Regions from separate parts of the Homo sapiens genome. Here region 1 is linked to region 2. Evidence: fine-mapped expression QTL. A gene starts in region 2. The other region holds a variant in brackets. All regions are shown on one strand. Distances are between the middles of the regions.

What was found. PIP is the estimated chance that this variant, and not a neighbour inherited with it, causes the effect.
Region 1: its variant is fine-mapped to the expression of PIP5K1C in pancreas (GTEx, PIP 0.97).

The regions. Positions count from the first base shown.
Region 1 is chr19:3,629,279-3,637,926 of GRCh38, reverse strand. It overlaps PIP5K1C (phosphatidylinositol-4-phosphate 5-kinase type 1 gamma), which reads left to right. Exons shown (of 18, transcript NM_012398.3): 17 at 4,407-4,490; 18 at 4,758-7,744. The coding sequence ends at 4,760. Among named protein-coding and RNA genes, the nearest start is that of CACTIN, 6.8 kb to the right of the region's middle. The variant T/C (reference allele first, on the strand shown) is at 4,733.
Region 2 is chr19:3,695,437-3,704,084 of GRCh38, reverse strand. It overlaps PIP5K1C (phosphatidylinositol-4-phosphate 5-kinase type 1 gamma), which reads left to right and starts at 3,617. Exons shown (of 18, transcript NM_012398.3): 1 at 3,617-3,788. The coding sequence starts at 3,695. RefSeq lists silencers at 3,369-3,858, 3,939-4,078 and an enhancer at 3,777-4,560.

The DNA of each region.
Region 1 (8,648 bases), 66 kb after region 2:
GCACGTCGTCACCCCTTTTCCTGGGACTGGTTTGTGCGCGTCCTGGTCTCCGGATGGTACGGGGGGCCTGGGGGCCATGTCGTGCTGTGTGTCTGTGTCCTGATGCCCTGCCAGGTGGGCAGCAGAGAAGGGAGAAGGGTCCTCGGTCCTGCCCCTGCCCCGGCACCCCCCACCTTCTGCTTGGCAGTCAGCTGTCCCCACCTGCTCCCCGCCACCTCCCTCCGCCTCTCCCACCCGACCACGGGGGTGGCCGCCTCATCCGCTGTCCTCTGTTTTCCTTCCTCCTCCGGCCCACCCGGCCCGCCCCGTCCAGTTCACGGATGGGAGGTACTGGATTTACTCTCCCCGCCATCGCCGACTGCGGGCCGTGACGCTGAGCGCCTCGGGGACTGTAAGTGACCGCAGCCGGCCACCCTGGGGAGAAGGGGCAGTGCCCCTCGGGCAGCAGGGAGCCGCAGGTCCCCGGCCGGAAGCTCAGTGTCTGACGTCAGTTGTTTTCCAGAAGGGCTTTGGGTAAATCACGGCTGCAATTGAGGTCAGCCACGCTGGCCCCGGACCAGGCGCTGGGCTGCATGCGTCACTGGGAATGTCATTCGGTCCCACGTCGAACCGGGCGCTCCATAGGGCAGCACCATCACCAGGTGCACAGCTGAGGCCCAGGGTCTGCTTCGGACCCCGGCCAGACCCCAGCGAGCCCCTCTCTGCCCCTGGACCCAGCCCTCTCGTGTCAGGGTGTCTTGGGTGGACGCTTCTCACTCGTGCAGACCTGGCTGCCCGTGGCCCCGCTGGCTGCACAGGGGAGGTTGCACAGGTCAGCAGAGTGGCTGCAGGGCCGGGCTCTGAACCGCAGGGCCATGGAGACGGGGAGGAGATGGTCTCTCCACACCCACCTCACAGATGGAGGCGCTGAGGCCTCGGCTCCCCTGGGAGCCTGGGAGACCACACGGTTTAGTCAAAATCCAGATCCCCAAGCTCTCAAGGAGGTCCCCCTGGGACGCCACATGGGCCCCACGTAGCTGTGAGATCCTCAGGGCCTGCTGTTGTCATTATGACCAATAAGCAAGGGGCCCAGAGAGCCTAAGAGACCTGCCCAGCACCGCACAGCCAGAACGGGGCGCAGACCCAAAGCAGGAGTGTCCCCTCGAGACAAAGCCTCCGCCGAGGCCGCCGTGACTCCCCGCCCATCAGCAAACCTCTCCGAGCACCTCTGTGTGCCAGGCACTGTGGAGTGACCCCAAGAGGTGGAGACCACTTCCCCGGCTGCTCTAGGCAGCTCCGTCCCACGGAGCCAGCGGGAAGCCAGCCACCGCGAAGCCGTGCCCCGGAGATCGTCCAGGAGCTGCCCAGAGGGGCCTGCTGGGAGGAGGAGCACTGGAGAGACCCAGCGGCCCTGCTGGCCACCCCACCATAGGCAGGGAGCAGTTCGCAGAGGCCGCCTACGGAGGGGGGTGCTTGGACTTTGAAAAACACCTGACTTGAAGGGGCAGACGTGGGGAGGGTGGTCTCGGCAGCAGGCACAGCAGAAGCGGAAGTGTGGGGGCCAGAAGGGAGGCAGGGCAGCCATTGAAAGCACCCCAAGGCCTGAGTGCTGAAGAGGCTGTGCCCTTGGTTCTGGTCTTCCTGGGGTCACCCGGTTCTGGGTCCCAGCTGCTACTGCCCCCCACTTCCCCTGTCTGCCCAGCTGCTGGCTGAGGGTGTCCCTCTCTGTCCCCCCAACTCCTGCAGGACAAGGAAGCCACCTGTCCTGCCCTTTCTTTTTTTTCATTTTTTGAGACGGAGTCTTGCTCTGTCGCCCAGGCTGGAGTGCAATGGCATGATCTCAGCTCACTGCAACCTCCACCCCCCAGGTACAAGCAATTATCCTGCCTCAGCCTCCTGAGTAGCTGAGATTACAGGCGCCTGCCACCATGCCTGGCTAATTTTGAGTTTTTTGTTTGTTTGTTTTTTGAGACAGAGTCTCGTTCTGTCGCCCAGGCTGGAGTGCAGTGGCACAATCTCGGCTCGCTGCAAGTTCCGCCTCCCGGGTTCACGCCATTCTCCTGCCTCAGCCTCCCGAGTAGCTGGGACTACAGGCGCCCGCCATCATGCCTGGCTAATTTTTTTGTATTTTTAGTAGAGACGAGGTTTCACCGTGTTCACCAGGATGGTCTCAATCTCCTGACCTCGTGATCTGCCCGCCTCAGCCTCCCAAAGTGCTGGGATTACAGGCGTAAGCCACCGCGCCCAGCCTTGTTTGTTTTTTTTGAGATGGAGTCTCACTCTGTCACCCAGGCTGGAATGCAGTGGCTCAATTTCAGCTCACTGCAACCTCTGGCCTGGGTTCAAGCGATTCTTCTGCCTCAGCCTCCCGAGTTGCTGGGATTACAGGCTCCTGCCACCATGCCCCAATAATTTTTTGTATTTTTAGTAAGAGATGGGGTTTTACCATGTTGGCCAGGCTGGTCTCGAACTCCTGACCTCAGGTATCTGCCCACCTCGGCCTCCCAAAGTTCTGGGATTACAGGCGTGAGCCACCACGCCCGGCCTTAATCTTTGTATTTTTAGTAGAGATAGGGTTTCGCCATATTGGCCAGGCTGGTCTTGAACTCCTGACCTCAAGTGATCCACCTGCCTTGGCCTCCCAAAGTGCTGGGATGACAGGCGTGAGCTCCTGCACCTGGCCTGTATCCCCGTTTCTAATGCTGTAGCAGAAGGATACTGTCATCCCTGCCCACGTGCTGTGTGTGCCCGGGATGCCCCTCCCAGAGAGCGGCTCTGAGGTGGCTGCTGCCACCCTCCTCCCTGCGGGCCAGTTCTTTCAGGGCTCAGGTGGGGACCCTGTTTTGGCCCCACATTTTCAAGTCCCCATGGGATCCATCAGTGCAGCCACCAAATCAGTACTGAGCACCCACATAGGCTCCCCATGCCGGGCTCTCAAGGGACGTTGGGTGGACCTGACCTGCCATTCCCACGTCAGGGATTCCAGGCTGCATTTGCTACCCTGGAGGAACAGGCAAGGCCTGCGCTGGGGTCCTGGCCCCTCAGTGCAGGAGTCAGTCCTCCGCGATGCGGCCTCGCAGGGCAGGAGTGCGCTGCCCTCGGTGCCCAGGGCCCGGGAACAGGGGTCTTGTGGAAGCTGTAGGATCGGGCAGGGTGGAGTGAGCACAGAGGTGGGCCCTTTAGAGGGAGCATGGAGGCAGAGCCCGAGGCAGGGAGAGGCAGTGCTCCTGCAGGTGAGGTCTGGGCTCACCTGGAGCACAAGGGAGGCCCCTGCTGGCCCAGGCTGGGCAACTGGGAGCTGGCAGAGGCATGGGTTGGCCTGGGCAGCAGGTGGGCAGCGTCATCCTGACTGGAAGGACGAGCAGTGGGTCTTGGGGTGATGGACTGGGTTGTGACTGTGGCGAGTTTAGGGGCCGAGGGCCGCCAGGTGGACGTGGCCAGGCAGGTGTGTATTCAGGCCTGGCACTTCAGGCCGAGGCCAGGCCTGGTGGAAATTCGCAGGTCATCTGTGCCGGGAGGGGCGTTGAAGGCTGGGTTGGTGACAGAGGCCCGAGAGAGAGGAGGACACAACAAGGAAGACAGGGCGGCCAGGCTGGAGCCCTGAGAAAGCAGAGCAGCCTAGGGGCAGGAGAAGCAGGGGGAGCTTGAGGGGGTGGGGGCTCCTCAGGAGGCGGGACGGAGGTGTTGGAGGAACGCACCCTCCCTCCCTCCCCAGATCCCACCCAGACCTGGGACCCCTCACGCAGGCACAGCTGGGAAGAGCTGTCCGTGTCCCTGCACACGGCCCTGCCTGTGCCTAGCCCTGAACTTGGCCCTCACTCTGCCCTGCTGCTCAGGAAGGCGTCTCCTGGCTCTTGCAGGGTGGGTGGTCCGAGCCTCAGTCTCTCCTAGCACGTCTGTGCTGGCAGAGGGGACTGGCCCTGCCCGCAGGCAGCCATATATTCAGGTCCCAAAAGGCTTCTGGGTTGGGAAGTAGGTCCGGCACCCCGACCTCCCAGGACCCCCATAGAGAGCTTCCAGGAGCCTGTGCGCTGGTGCCCGTGGCACAGGCAGGATTGGGGGCTGTGGTGGGGCCGGGCTGTGGAGGAGGAGGAGGAGGAGGAACACTCGGTGCTCCAGGTCGCGACCCCCACCCGCTTCCGCCGGCTCTGTCACCTGCTATCTCAGGCCCTGCCTCGACTGAACTAACTGCTTTCTGCCGCCCGCCGTGCCCCGCCCCGCCAAGCTGAGCTGAGGCCCCAGGCCCGTCCAGGTTGGGAGCAAGTCCACCGGGTCAGAGAGGGCAGCTGGGCTGAGCCACCCCTCGTCTTCCATGGGGGATTCGCCTCTTTTATGTTCTCCTGTCTCTTCCTTCCTCCCTCTGCCTCTCTTGCACCTCCTCGCACCCTGCTCTTCCGCGCCCTCCTGCACGCGCGCCCACCTGCCAGCCCACCGATGAGAGGAGCTGGGTGTACTCCCCGCTCCACTATAGCGCCCAGGCCCCCCCGGCCTCCGACGGCGAGAGCGACACAGTAAGTGCAGCCCAGGTGCACCCGCCGGTCCCGTGGGCTCCAAGGTTCTACTGAGCGTGGTCCCCAGCTACTGGGATAGGCAGGGACTGAGGCCCGGGGCGGGAGGGCACAGGTGGCCCAGAGCTCCACCCTGGGCTCTCTGGCTCTGAGGTGGCCGTGGGCTAAGTGTCTCAGGGCCTGTGTTGGCCCAAGGAAGCCAGTCCCTGGCAGGGGGCCTGGGGTGGGCCCTCGCCCCGCCCACC[T/C]TCACCTGTCCTCTTGCTCTTGCAGTAATTTCTATGCAGCCCCCGACCCAGAGCCGAGCTCCACTTCTGCTCCGGCTGCCCCCGAAGGCGCTGCCCACCCCGCTGAGGCCCAGAGCTCGGGAGATGCCCGCCTCGCCGCCCCACCGGACCTCGTCCTCCCCCTGCACGGATGCCGACGGCCGGGCCCCTCCCCGACAAGCCTCCCAGGGCCCCGGCACCCCGGTCGGCAGCCTGCCCCTGTGAGACCCACCCTCCCGAGCGGCCAATCGCATTTGAGTCCTTATTTGGCACAGAGACGGAAGCACGTGTGTGCCGTTTTAGGAAAAGAACAAAAAAGACACAAACAAACCAACCAGAGGGAGAAGAGCCCCTGCCCACTGCACTCTTTGGTTCTCTGCTGTGCCTGCCTGTGTCCTGAGGAAGAAGCCAGGCTGTTCGCGGTGGCCTCTGGGGACCTGAGCCCCGGGGGCCCCATCGGCCTGCAGAGGGGACGGCTGGGGTCCCGAGCAACTCTGCCTCCATCCACGTGGGAAGCGGACCCTCCTGCCCTCAGCTTGGGTTTGGGGGCCTCAGTGCAGGACATCTGGCCTGAACATCGACTGTGGGGACAGCCCTCGCCCTGCCAAGCACTGCGGCCACTCAGCAGCTATGTTCCCGCCGCAGTGGGGCCCTGACGCCCACCTCCCAGGTGCCCCTCGAGCAAAAACCTCTGGCGCCTCCAATCCAGACCCACCACAGCTGGAGGGCCAGGCCTCCTCTTCCCCAGGCTGCCACCCACGCTGGCGGAGCTCAGGGCTGGGGACTTGTCCTTCTCTTCCAACGTAGGCCACTCAGCAACTGGCATGGAGGGCCCAGGCAACGGAGACGTTTTCTCCATGGCAGGACAGAGCGGGAGGCCGGGCCTTGGGCCACAGGAGACCAGCTCAGGGCGGAAGGTCAGGCTCCCCGCCCCCTCCACGTGGAGACATGGCCTAGGGGGCCAGGCCCGGCTCCACAGGAGTCTCCTTCAGGACTGGTGTGGATGTCCGCCGCCTCTTTCTTGTTTAAGTGATGTGATGTCTCCGAGGAGGGGAGAGAAGACTTTGTTTCCGACTCATCACCCTCCAAGAGGGCAGCGCTCCCAGTGGTGGGACTCAGCCCAGACTGCCCTGGGGCAGCTTCCTGGGCCCGCTGCGCTCAGAGGGTGCTGGTTGGAGGCCAGAGCTCGGCAGAGTCACCCACCCTGCCCTTCCCCAGGACCCCTGAGAGGGGCTTATTGGTGATGGCTGTGGGAATCCCCCACTTCCAAGATGTGCCCAGGATGTGAGGAGCTGGAGTGGAAGCTGCACCTTTGGGAAGAATTCCTCTCCAGACCTGGCAGAGCCTGGTGTGGGGTCTGAGACGGCCGGAGAACCTCCCAGGCAGGGCTCTGTGTTTTGTCTGTTACAACCTCCGTATGACGCCACGCCACCCGCTGTTCACGTCCCGTCGGCCTCCTGCACAGCCCACACGCTGCGCCCGGAAGGCCCCTGCTGTGGAGAAGCCGGACCCATCCCCGAGGTCCCCAGCGAGGACACACACTCCACGAGAGCAGCCCCTCCACTCTGCCCAGGAGAGGGGCCGACCCTCCTCGGGAACCGGCCAGCCGCGTGGCTCCCAGCATCCATCAGGACAAGCCCACGTGGGGTCCTCCCTGCGTGCTCAGAGGGTCTGTCCAGCCCTGGGAAGCGACCTTGGCCTCAGTTCACAGCCTGGTGCTCATCTGCTGGCACCGGGCATCCACCCATCAGCCCCCGCCCTGTCCCTCCGAAGGACACCCAGCAGGCACCCCCCGGGGAGGCAGGGGCAGAGGTCAGAAGGGGTGTCTGGGACCTGGATGGCCAGCAGGGACAGGGGCATTGTCATCTCAAAGGCCCAACCCCCAGAGGCCACACCAGTCCTCCCAGGGAGTCCTCGAGTCGCCCTGCCCAGAGCCCTGGCACCAGAGACGCCAAGAGCCTGTGGGGTGACTCGGAGCAGCAGGTGTGGCCCCGGGCGGGCGGCACCGCGTCCAGGGCAGCCTCCCTCCGCTGAGTGACACGGGACACCAGTGCCCGGCCGACGCGCCTTTGCAGGAGAAATGTGCAAACCTCTGTGGATACCATTTCATTTCCATTCTTGTGTTGTCTCCAAGGCCCTTTTGGAGATATACTTGGTGTTGGTTGTGTTTTTTGGTTCCTTTTCAGAGAACTGTAAACCGAGGCTGACGTGCTCCACTGACTGTGCCGAGGGGCGGGGGCAGGAGGACGGCAAGACCTATTTATAATATTTAGCGAACTCGGTCTCCCTCAGATCCCCCGCGAGGGAGGCTGCTGGACCCACCCCGCTGTCCCCCATGATAGAAGTCTGTAAATACCTTGGTGACCAATGCCCACTTCCCCTCCTGGGTCACCTCTGATGGCTGCTGTCCACTGAGAACGTGGGCAGTGTCCAAATTCCTGTACTGTAAAGACTAAAAGGCGTTTGCTCTGAGACTGACAAGGCGGAAACTTCCATGTGTCTCCTGCCAGGCTCTGTCCCCCTACGCCATCCCGACACGTCCCCGTTCCCCCGAAACCTGGCTCAGTGCAATACTCCCATTGCCATGGGGTCCTTCACCATGGTACTGTCTCCACAGCCCTCAGTCCCCACCCCAGGAGAGGCGCCTGCCACCTCCTCCTCATCTCCGGTGGTTCAATCGCTCCGCCTGTCCCCAACCCAGTCCCATTTTTATGGCCAAACTGATTCTGAAACAAAATGAAACTGCAAACCTCGTGTGTCTTAACTCCCCCCAGGGATGCCACTCCATTCCTCCGCCCCGTGGTCTGGTGCGTGACAATCCAAAGCGCCGAGACGAGGGTGCTGTGTCCCTCAAACCCAGAGTGGTGGGCGCCTCTGAAACCATACAGCCACTCCTGGCCCCAAACACTGGTTTGCATCCCAGGTTCCTCGCCCACCTACCCCCGCCACACCCCGTCTTTTTAGAGATCTCTCTAATAAATCGGGTAATAAGCATCCGCCTGTTTGCCTTTCTGTGGGTTCCGGAGGTCTGGTTGGGAGTCTGAGGAGTGACTTTGTTCTGTGTTTTTTGTTTTCTGTTTTTGTTTGTTTGTTTGTTTTCTTTTTAAGAGATGGAGTCTCGCTCTCCACCCAGGCTGGAGTGCAGTGGCGCAATCTCAGCTCACTGCAAGCTCCGTCTCCTGGGTTCACACCATTCTCCTGCCTCAGCCTCCTGAGTAGCTGGGACTACAGGCGCCCGCCACCACGCCCAGCTAATTTTTTATTTTTAGTAGAGGCAGGGTTTCACCATGTTAGCCAGGATGGTCTCGATCTCCTGACCTCGTGATCCGCCCACCTCGGCCTCCCAAAGTGCTGGGATTACAGGTGTGAGCCACCGCACCCAGCCTGTGTTTTGTTTTTTTTTTTTTTGAGATGGAGTCTCGTTCTGTTGCCCAGGCTGGAGCGCAGTGGAGTGATCTCAGCTCACTGCAACCTCTGCCTCCCGGGTTCAAGCCATTCTCCTGCCTCAGCCTCCCGAGTAGCTGGGACCACAGGCGCCCGCCACCACACCTGGCTAATTTTTTTGTATTTTTAGTAGAGACGGGGTTTCACCACATTGGCCAGGCTGGTCTCAAACTCCTGACCTCAAAGGACCCACCCGCCTCATCCCAAAGTGCTGAGATTACAGGCGTAAGCCACCGTGCCTGGCCTGAGGACTGACTTTGAATCTTAGAGAAGAGAGAAACCTTTGTGAGATTGATGCTGATACCAGTAATAGGACCCAAACACCTTACCAGCTGTGAACCTTCTTCAGGTCCCAGTTCAGCTCAGAAAACATTTTATTGTTTCCAACATCTTTGCAGCCCCCCAAAGTTTGTATTTGTTCTGCTAGAGCGGTTCCAATTCAGTCACGTTTGGA
Region 2 (8,648 bases):
CTGTGGTCTCAGCTACTTGGGAGGCTGAGGTGGGAGGATCGCTTGAACCTGGGAGGCAGAGGCTGCAGTAAGCCGAGATCACGCCACTGCACTCCAGCCTGGGTAACAGAGCAAGACTCATCTCAAAAAAGAAAAAACAAAAAATGGTAGTAAAATACGCACAACATACAATTCACAATTTTCACCATTTCTTTTTTTTCGAGTCTTGCTCTGTTGCCCAGGCTGGAGTGCAGTGGTGCCATGTTGGCTCACTGCAACCTCTGCCTCTCAGGTTCAAGTGATTCTCCTGCCTCAGCCTCCCGAGTAGCTGGGATTATAGGCCTGTGCCACTATGCCCAGCTAATTTTTTGGTATTTTTAGTAGAGACAGGGTTTCACCACATTGACCAGGCTGGTCTTGAACTCCTGACCTTAGGTGATCTGCCAGCCTCGGCCTCCCAAAGTGCTGGGATGACAGGCGTGAGCCACCGCACCCGGCCCATTTTCACCATTTCTTTCTTCTTCTTCTTCTTCTTTTTTTTTTTTTTTTTTTTTTGGAGACAGAGTCTTGCTCTGTCGCCCAGGCTGGAGTGCAGTGGTGCCATGTTGGCTCACTGCAACCTCTGCCTTTCGGGTTCAAGTGATTCTCCTGCCTCAGCCTCCCGAGTAGCTGGGATTACAGGCACGCGCCACCACGCCTGGCTAATTTTGTATTTTTAGTAGAGACGGGGTTTCTCCATGTTAGTCAGGCTGGTCTTGAACTCCCGACCTCAGGTAATCCGCCCACCTCGGCCTCCCAAAGTGCTGGGATTGCAGGTGTGAGCCCCCGCGCCCGGCCCATTTTCACCATGTCTAAGAGCACAGCTCCGTGGCCTTAAGCACATTCCCATGGCTGTGCAAACATCACCGCCATCATCTCCAGAATGTTCTCATCTTCTGAGACTGGAAGTCTGCCCCTGTGAAACACTCACTCCTCGTCTCCCCCCAAGCCCCTGGCACCCCCCATCCTACTTTCTGTCTCTGTGAATGTGACAACTCTAGGGACCTCCTAGGAGTGGAACCACACAGAATTTGTCTTTTTGTTTTTTTTGTTTGTTTTTTTTTTTTGCGGGGACAGACGGGGTCTTTCTCTGTTGCCCAGGCCAGAGTGCAGTGGTGCGATCATAGCTCACTGCAGCCTTGAGTTCCCGGGCTCAAGCAGTCCTCCCACCTTAGCCTACTAAGTAGCTGGCTAATTAAAAAACAATTTTTTTTGTAAAGATGAGGGGTCTCACTACACCTAGCTAATTAAAAAAATTTTTTTTGTAGAGATGAGAGGGCTCACTATGTTACCCAGGCTGGTCTAGAACTCCTGAGCTCAAGTAATCCTCCTGCCTTGGCCTCCCAAAGTGCTGGAATTACAGGCGGGAGCCTCTGTGCCCACCCCAAACATTATTTATGTGCATAGGTAATATAATCATTATGATTTACATTTATGTAAATAATATAAACGTTATTACTTAAATTAACATAAACAACATAAGCCTTATTATGTGCTTATATAAAGAACATAAATATGGCCGGGCGCAGTGGCTCACACCTGTAATCCCAGCACTTTGGGAAGCTGAGGCGGGAAGATCACGAGGTCAGGCGTTCAAGACCAGCCTGGCCAACATGGCGAAACCTCATCTCTACTAAAAATACAAAAATTAGCCGGGCGTGGTGGCACGTACCTGTAGTCCTAGTTACTTGGGAGGGTGAGGCAGGAGAATCACTTGAACCCTGGAGGCAGAGGTTGCAGTGAGCTCAGATCGCCCCCCTGCACTCCAGCCTGGGCAACAACAGCAAGACTCCATCTCAAAAAAAAAAAAGAAGGATATAAATATTGCTACTTACATTTGCATAAATATATATAATTTATTATGTATTTCTATAATTATATGTTTCTTATAATAGCAAACTGTATTATTATTGATAAAATAATATAAAGAAAACAATAACATATCTATACTTACGTAATACAAACGATGGAATATAAATATTATTTGCAATATGATAATAAACAGGTAGTTAATTGCAAATGTTATTGATATGTATTGCGTAGATCAATGTTAATAACATGTATTGTGTAGATCTATATATATATATATTTTTTTTTGATATGGAGTCTCGCTCTGTTGCCCAGGCTGGAGTGCAGTGACACGATCTCAGCTCACTGCAAGCTCTGCCTCCCAGGTTCACCCTATTCTCCTGCCTTAGCCTCCCAAGTAGCTGGGACTACAGGCGCCCGCCACCACGCCTGGCTAATTTTTTGTATTTTTAGTAGAGACGGGGTTTCACCATGTTAACCAGGATGGTCTCAATCTCCTGACCTCGTGATCCGCCCGCCTCGGCCTCCCAAAGTCTTGGGATTACAGGCATGAGCCACCGCGCCCGGCCCTGTGTAGATCAATATTATTTACATGTACTGTGTATATCACTGTTATTGGTATATTTTGTGCATATCAATGTTATTGACATGTAGTGTGTATATCAATGTTATTGACATGTAGTGTGTACATTAATGTTATTGGCATGTAGTGTGTATATCAATGTTATTGGCATGTAGTGTGTATATCCATGTTATTGGCATGTAGTGTGTATATCAATGTTATTGACATGTAGTGTGTGTATCAATGTTAGTTACATGTATTGTGTAGATCAATGTTATTGGTATTCATTGTGTATAGCAATGTGATTGGCATGTATTGCATATAGCAATGCTATTTGTATGTTTTATGTAGATCCATGTCAATGATATAGTATAGATTCATGTTATTGGCATGTATTGTGTATATCCATGTTATTGGCATGTATTGTGCATATCCGTGTTATTGGCATGTATTGTGTATATCCATGTTATTGGCATGCATTGGGTAACTCCATGTTATTGGCATGTGCTGTGTAGGTCCATGTGTGGTTTTTTTTGGGACAGAGTCTCACTCTGTGGCCCAGGCTGGAGGGCAATGGTGCGATCTCAGCTCACTGCAACCTCTCCCTCCTGGGTTCCAGCGATTCTCCTGCCTCAGCCTCCCGAGTAGCCGCGATTACAGGCATGTGCCACCACGCCCAGCTATTTTTTGTATTTTTAGTAGAGACAGGATTTCACCATGTTGGTCAGGATGGTCTTGAACTCCTGACCTCAGGTGATCCGCCCTCTTCGGCCTCCCAAAGTGCCGGGAATATAGGCGTGAGTCACCGCGCCCGGCCAGATCCATGTTATTGTCATGCGCTGTGCAGGTCCCTGTTATTGGCATGTGCTGTTTAGATCCATGTTATTGGCATGTGCTGTGTACATCCATATTATTGGCACGTGCTGTATAGATCCATATTATTGTCATGTGTTGTGTAGATCCATGTTATTGGTATGTGTTGTGCACAGCAATGTTATTGATACGTATCGTGCCTGTCAATCTTACTGACCTAATACGATGGAATGGCGAGCCTGGCTCTGTACTCCCACCCCTGGGCGCGAGGGGGCACTCGAGGCGCTCCTGGCTGCGGGTCGCAAGCAGGCCCCGCCCCCGAGCCCCGATTGGCCGCGCGCCGTCCGCGGCGTCGCACGCACGCAGGCCCCGCCCCGTCCGCCCCGCGCCGGCCCGGCGCGCCCTCCCTTGGCCGGCGGCGCTTGTTGTTCGGCGGCGGCGGTCGCAGCTCGGGTCCCCCTCGGGCGCCCCCGCCGCCGTCCGCGCGCGGCCATGGAGCTGGAGGTACCGGACGAGGCGGAGAGCGCTGAGGCGGGGGCCGTGCCCTCGGAGGCGGCGTGGGCGGCAGAGAGCGGGGCGGCGGCAGGTAACGGCCCGGCCTCCCGGGGCTGCGGCCCGCTGGGCTCGTCCGAGCGCCGAGAGTCGCGGGGCTGCGGGGCCGGGGCGGGGGCTGCACGGTCGCTGCGGGGGCGCCGCCGGTTCCAGGAGCCTGGGGCGGGGCAGTCCCCTGGAGCCGCGGGGAGGACGGGGCTGAAGCCGCGCCGGGAAGCGGGAGGCCTGCGAGGGGCTACCTCCCACCGCTCCCGGGCCGGGGGCGACTCGGCGTGGGCGCCGCTGGGGATCCCCGTTCTGCCTGACCCGCTCCCAGGGGCTGCCCGTCGTGTGAGTGGCGGCTGCTTGGGTGGAGGCGGGGGTCTCTGAGGCCGTGCGTGCCCACCTCCTGATGTCACCTCCCTTTCTGTAAGTCCCCAGACCTGAGTCCGGGTGCGCGACCTTTCCTCACCTTCCTGGGCCTCAGTTTACCTCCCTGCTAAAATGAGGGGAGGAAAAGGGTTACATCTCAAGATGCCTCCACCGCCCCGGCTGTGCACACAGGGTGCCCTGTCGCCCCCTTTTCCTCTCCCCGAGCCTTCCCCCAGGACACACTGGTGGGGCTGCGGGCTGGGCGGGGGGCACGGCTGTCTCATGCCCCCTTTAGCTGCTTCCTGGACCTCCAGCCGGGTAGGTGGCGGCAGCTGGGCCTTCCCTTCTGTGGGGACGGTGTGCAGAGCCCAGAGGAAGGGAACAGTTCCTTCTCAGTCGAGGTCACAAGCTCCCAAATCGGAAGTTTCCGGATTCACAAAATCCTCTGCTCCTCCCAGGCAGCCAGCAGCAGCGTCTCTGTAGACACCCACACGGGCATCCGTCCTCCTTCTCCCCCCAGGCCTCCCGAAGCTTCCTTGGTTGGCAGGCGGGCAAGCGGGCGGGCGGGCGATGCGTGCTGCCTGGGAGTTGGGGAGATGTCTGGAGAGAGAGAGAGTGTGGAAGTCATCAAGTCCCCCCCCCACCCCCCGCCTTGAAAGACACTCGTGGCTTCCCTCCCGGCGGCCATCTGGAACCGCTTGGTAGGTGACCCGGTTCCTTCCCCAGAGCCAGTGGCCTCGCCCCTTTCTTTGCGGGCAGCCGGTGTCCTGGCCTGGCCAGCAAGAGACATGGTGGAGGAACCCAGGCAGGGCACCAGGCCCCAGCCCGGGTTCCTTTCTTGGGCCCCCCAACTTCCGCTGTCAGCCCTCTGACCCCAGCTGGTCAGAGACAAAGTAGCCCAGGACTCGCTGACCAAAAGAAAACCACACCGCGACCATTCATCTTATCAGGGGCTCTGGGAGCACCGGGGACAGATAAAGTTGCCAGCTCCAGACTGAGCATGGTGGTGGGGTGGGAGAGCGGGGGAGTGGGGGGGTGGGGGTGGGGGGCCGGGGAGGGCTGGAAGGTCAGGGTCTGGCATCTCTGCCCATCCCTGAAATCCACAGAAATCTGACCCCAGCTGGCCATATACTGCTTCTGAATGTTTAAAATTCAGAGTTGCCTCACTCCTCCAACGCCATCCCTCCTGATGTTAGCGCTGGTGAGTTTAGGTTGTGCCTGGCTGGGCCACAGAGACGTGAGCACATAAAGGGGCCTGCTTGTTCTTCACCGAGATGGTTTCATGCCTCACTGGGGCTTCTGTGCCTTGGCAGAGGTATTTTGAGTCAGGAAATTAGGGGTGCTGAGCAACGCCCCTGGCTTCTGCCCACTCCATGCCAGGAGCACCTGCCAGTTGTGACAGCCACAAGTGACCCAGACACCGTTCAGTGTCCCCTGGGGGCAGGACGGCCCTGGTGAGAAATGCCACACGTTTATGACTCTGTGAACTGCTTGCTTTTTATCTCTGGTCATCTGGAGTCTCCCCACCCTATGTTGGTATCGGTTTGTAGAGAGGGCGAGCGCCAGGCAGTGGTTAAGGGGGAGCCCCAGAGTTGGTCCCGCCGATGTCCCCCTCCCAGCTCCGCGCTTCAGGTGCTGTGTGGCCGTCACTTCCCCGGGCTTCAGCGTCCCGTCTGTGAAGTGGGGTGATGACCGTGTGTGCTAGGGGCTGAGCCTGGGATGAGTTGGCGCTCGTGCTTGGTGATTGTCGTGCCGGTTGGCCACCCCTTTCCGGCCTCTCCACCATCGGTGCCTCCAGGCCCCTGCTGAGGCCCATGCCCGTGGTTTCTGGAGTCACCGCTCACTGTTAGAAGCGATGGCGACACCTTCCAGAAAGCTCAGCTACAGCGGGAGCCTTGTCCGACAGGGGCCGAGGGAGGCTGCCCGTTTCCCACGGCACTGCCAGCTCCCAGTGTCATCGTCCTTGGCGATTTCGGCTGATCCGATGGGAGGCAAAGCAATGTCTCGTTGGTGTTTAGAATTTGGTTCCTCTAATTGCCTGGGCTCCTGGCTCCCGAGGCGTGGCCTGAATGGCGTCTCCATGGGCCGTGGCCGTGGGGCACGTGGGGGCGGTCTCGGGAAGGCCGGGGCTTGGGATGCGGCTGTGCCCACTGTGTGGGCCGATGGCCTGTGGTGGAGTTTGGTCTGAGCTGTGGCCTGGGCGTGTCTGAGCCTCTCCCAGGCTGTCCTGTCTCTGTGATGCCCCAGAACGGTCAGCTCCATCCCTGCCCCTGCCCCACTCCCACGGCTGATCTGTCTCTGTGATGCCCTGGAAAGGTCAGCTGCATCCCTGCCCCTGCCCCACTTCCACGGCTGATCTGGCAGCAAATGATGGCAGCTTCACCTTCAGAACTGGCCCAGAACCCACTGACTCCTTCCCTGTCCTCTGCCTCTCCCGGGTCCAGCTTGGTCCTCCCGGGTCCAGCTTGGTCCTCCCTGGTCCAGCTCGGTCCTCCCCGGTCCAGCTCGGTCCTCCTCGGTCCAGCTCGGTCCTCCTCCGTACAGCTCGGTCCTCCTCCGTCTGGCTGAGTACTCCCCGGTCCAGCTCAGTCCTCCTCCGTCTGGCTCAGTCCTCCTCTGTCTGGCTCGGTCCTCCCCGGTCCAGCTCGGTCCTCCTCCGTCCGGCCCAGTCCTCCTCCATCCGGCTCGGTCCTCTATCCGGCTTGGTCCTCCTCCATCTGGCTCGGTCCTCCCGGGTCCAGCTCGGTCCTCCCCGGTCCAGCTTAGTCCTCCTCCATCCGGCTCAGTCCTCCCCAGTCCAGCTTGGTCCTCCTCTGTCCGGCTCGGTTCTCCTTCGTCCGGCTCAGTCCTCCTTCGTCTGGCTCGGTCCTCCTTGGTCCTCCTCGGTCCAGCTCGGTCCTCCTTGGTCCAGCTCGGTCCTCCCCGGTCCAGCTCAGTCCTCCTTTGTCCAGCTCGGTCCTCCTCGGTCCAGCTCGATCCTCCTCCGTCCAGCTCAGTCCTCCTCGGTCCAGCTCAGTCCTCCTTTGCCCCCTGAGCCAGGCCTGGCGCCCCTGCTCTTCCTCTGCTCCCTGTCCCACATTCCAGGAGGACCCCATTAAAAACCAGCGGCCCGAGTCCCGACCCTCCTCTGCTCGCAGCCCTCCATGGCTCCCACCTCCCTTGGGGTCAAAGACATAGTCCTCTTTGAAGCCCATCAGGCCCTGCACAGCCTGCCCCGGGCCCTCCCTGCCCTCCCTGCCCTCCCCTCCGCACTCTGCCCTCCCTGCCCTCCCGTCTGCACTCTGCTGTAGGCCCATGGGCCCCTTGCTGTTCCTCCAGCATGCAGGGCATGGTCCTGCCCCGGGGCCTTTGCACGGCTGCCCCCCACCCCCACCCCGGAATGCCCCTCCTCCCATCTGTGTCCTTTGCTCCCTTAGCGCTTTCCAGGTTTTGTGGGAGCATCTCCTCTCCGTGAGGCCTCCCTGCCCTGCTGTCACCACACAGCGGTCTCCCCTTCTCCGTCCCCTGCCCTCCCGGTTCCTCTTCCCTGATTGTGCCACCATAGCGTTTGTCACCACCTGAAACATATGGCTCTGCTGACGTGTTTTCTGACCATCTCCTCCTGAGCGAGAGCTCCACGAGGGCCAAGACCGTCTGTGCCACTCCTGCGGCATCCCCTGCGCCCGGAAGAGCTCAGCACAGTGCAGATCCTGGTGAACATCAGGTGCATGAGGCCAGCAGTGCCAGGGAGGAAGGGTAAGGTAGAATGGGGTGGCTGGGAAGGCCTTGCCAAGAAGGTGGCATCCGAGGGAGACCTGTGGGCATTGGGCAGGAAGAGGGCATGGCCCCAGCAGAGGCCCCGCCTGCCTGGAGCACAGTGTAGTGTGGTCACAGGGCGGCCGGGCAGGGAGTCAGCACCGCCACCAGGGCCTCCCTGTAGCTGTGGTGGTCTGTGTAAAAAGGTCAGGGAGGCCGGGCACGGTGGCTCACACCTGTAATCCCAGCATTTTGGGAGGCTGAAGCAGGAGGATCACTTGATCTCAGGAGTTTGAGACCAGCCTGGAGCAACATAGCAAGACCCCTGTCTCTACTAAAAAAAAATTAAAAGAAGTAGCTAGACGTAATGGTATGTACCTGTAGTTCCAGCTACTCAGGAGGCTGAGGCAGGAGGATCACCTGAGCCTGGGAGGCTGAGGCTGCACTGAGCTGTGATCGTGCCACTGCATGCCTGGGTGACAGCAGAATCGTATCTCAAAAAAAAAAAAAAAAAAGGGTCAGTGGGATTGTGGTGTCTCTTGTTGCAAGTCAGCAGGGCCCAGGCGGAGGCTGAGGACACTGGGGACGGAAAGTTCCCCATTCTCTCCCGCCCTGGCCGCCTCCCGGGATGCAGGTCAGGCACTGTGACCACCACAGCCTGGGTGTCCCAGTGGAGAGGCCTCGGGGGCCGGCCCTCCTGGGTTCACACCCAGCGCCATTGCATGCCAGCCGGGGATGTGCAGCCTCGGTGTACCTGTCTGTAAAGTGGGCGTGATGGCTGCCTTTCTCCTGGGCTGCATGGAGAATC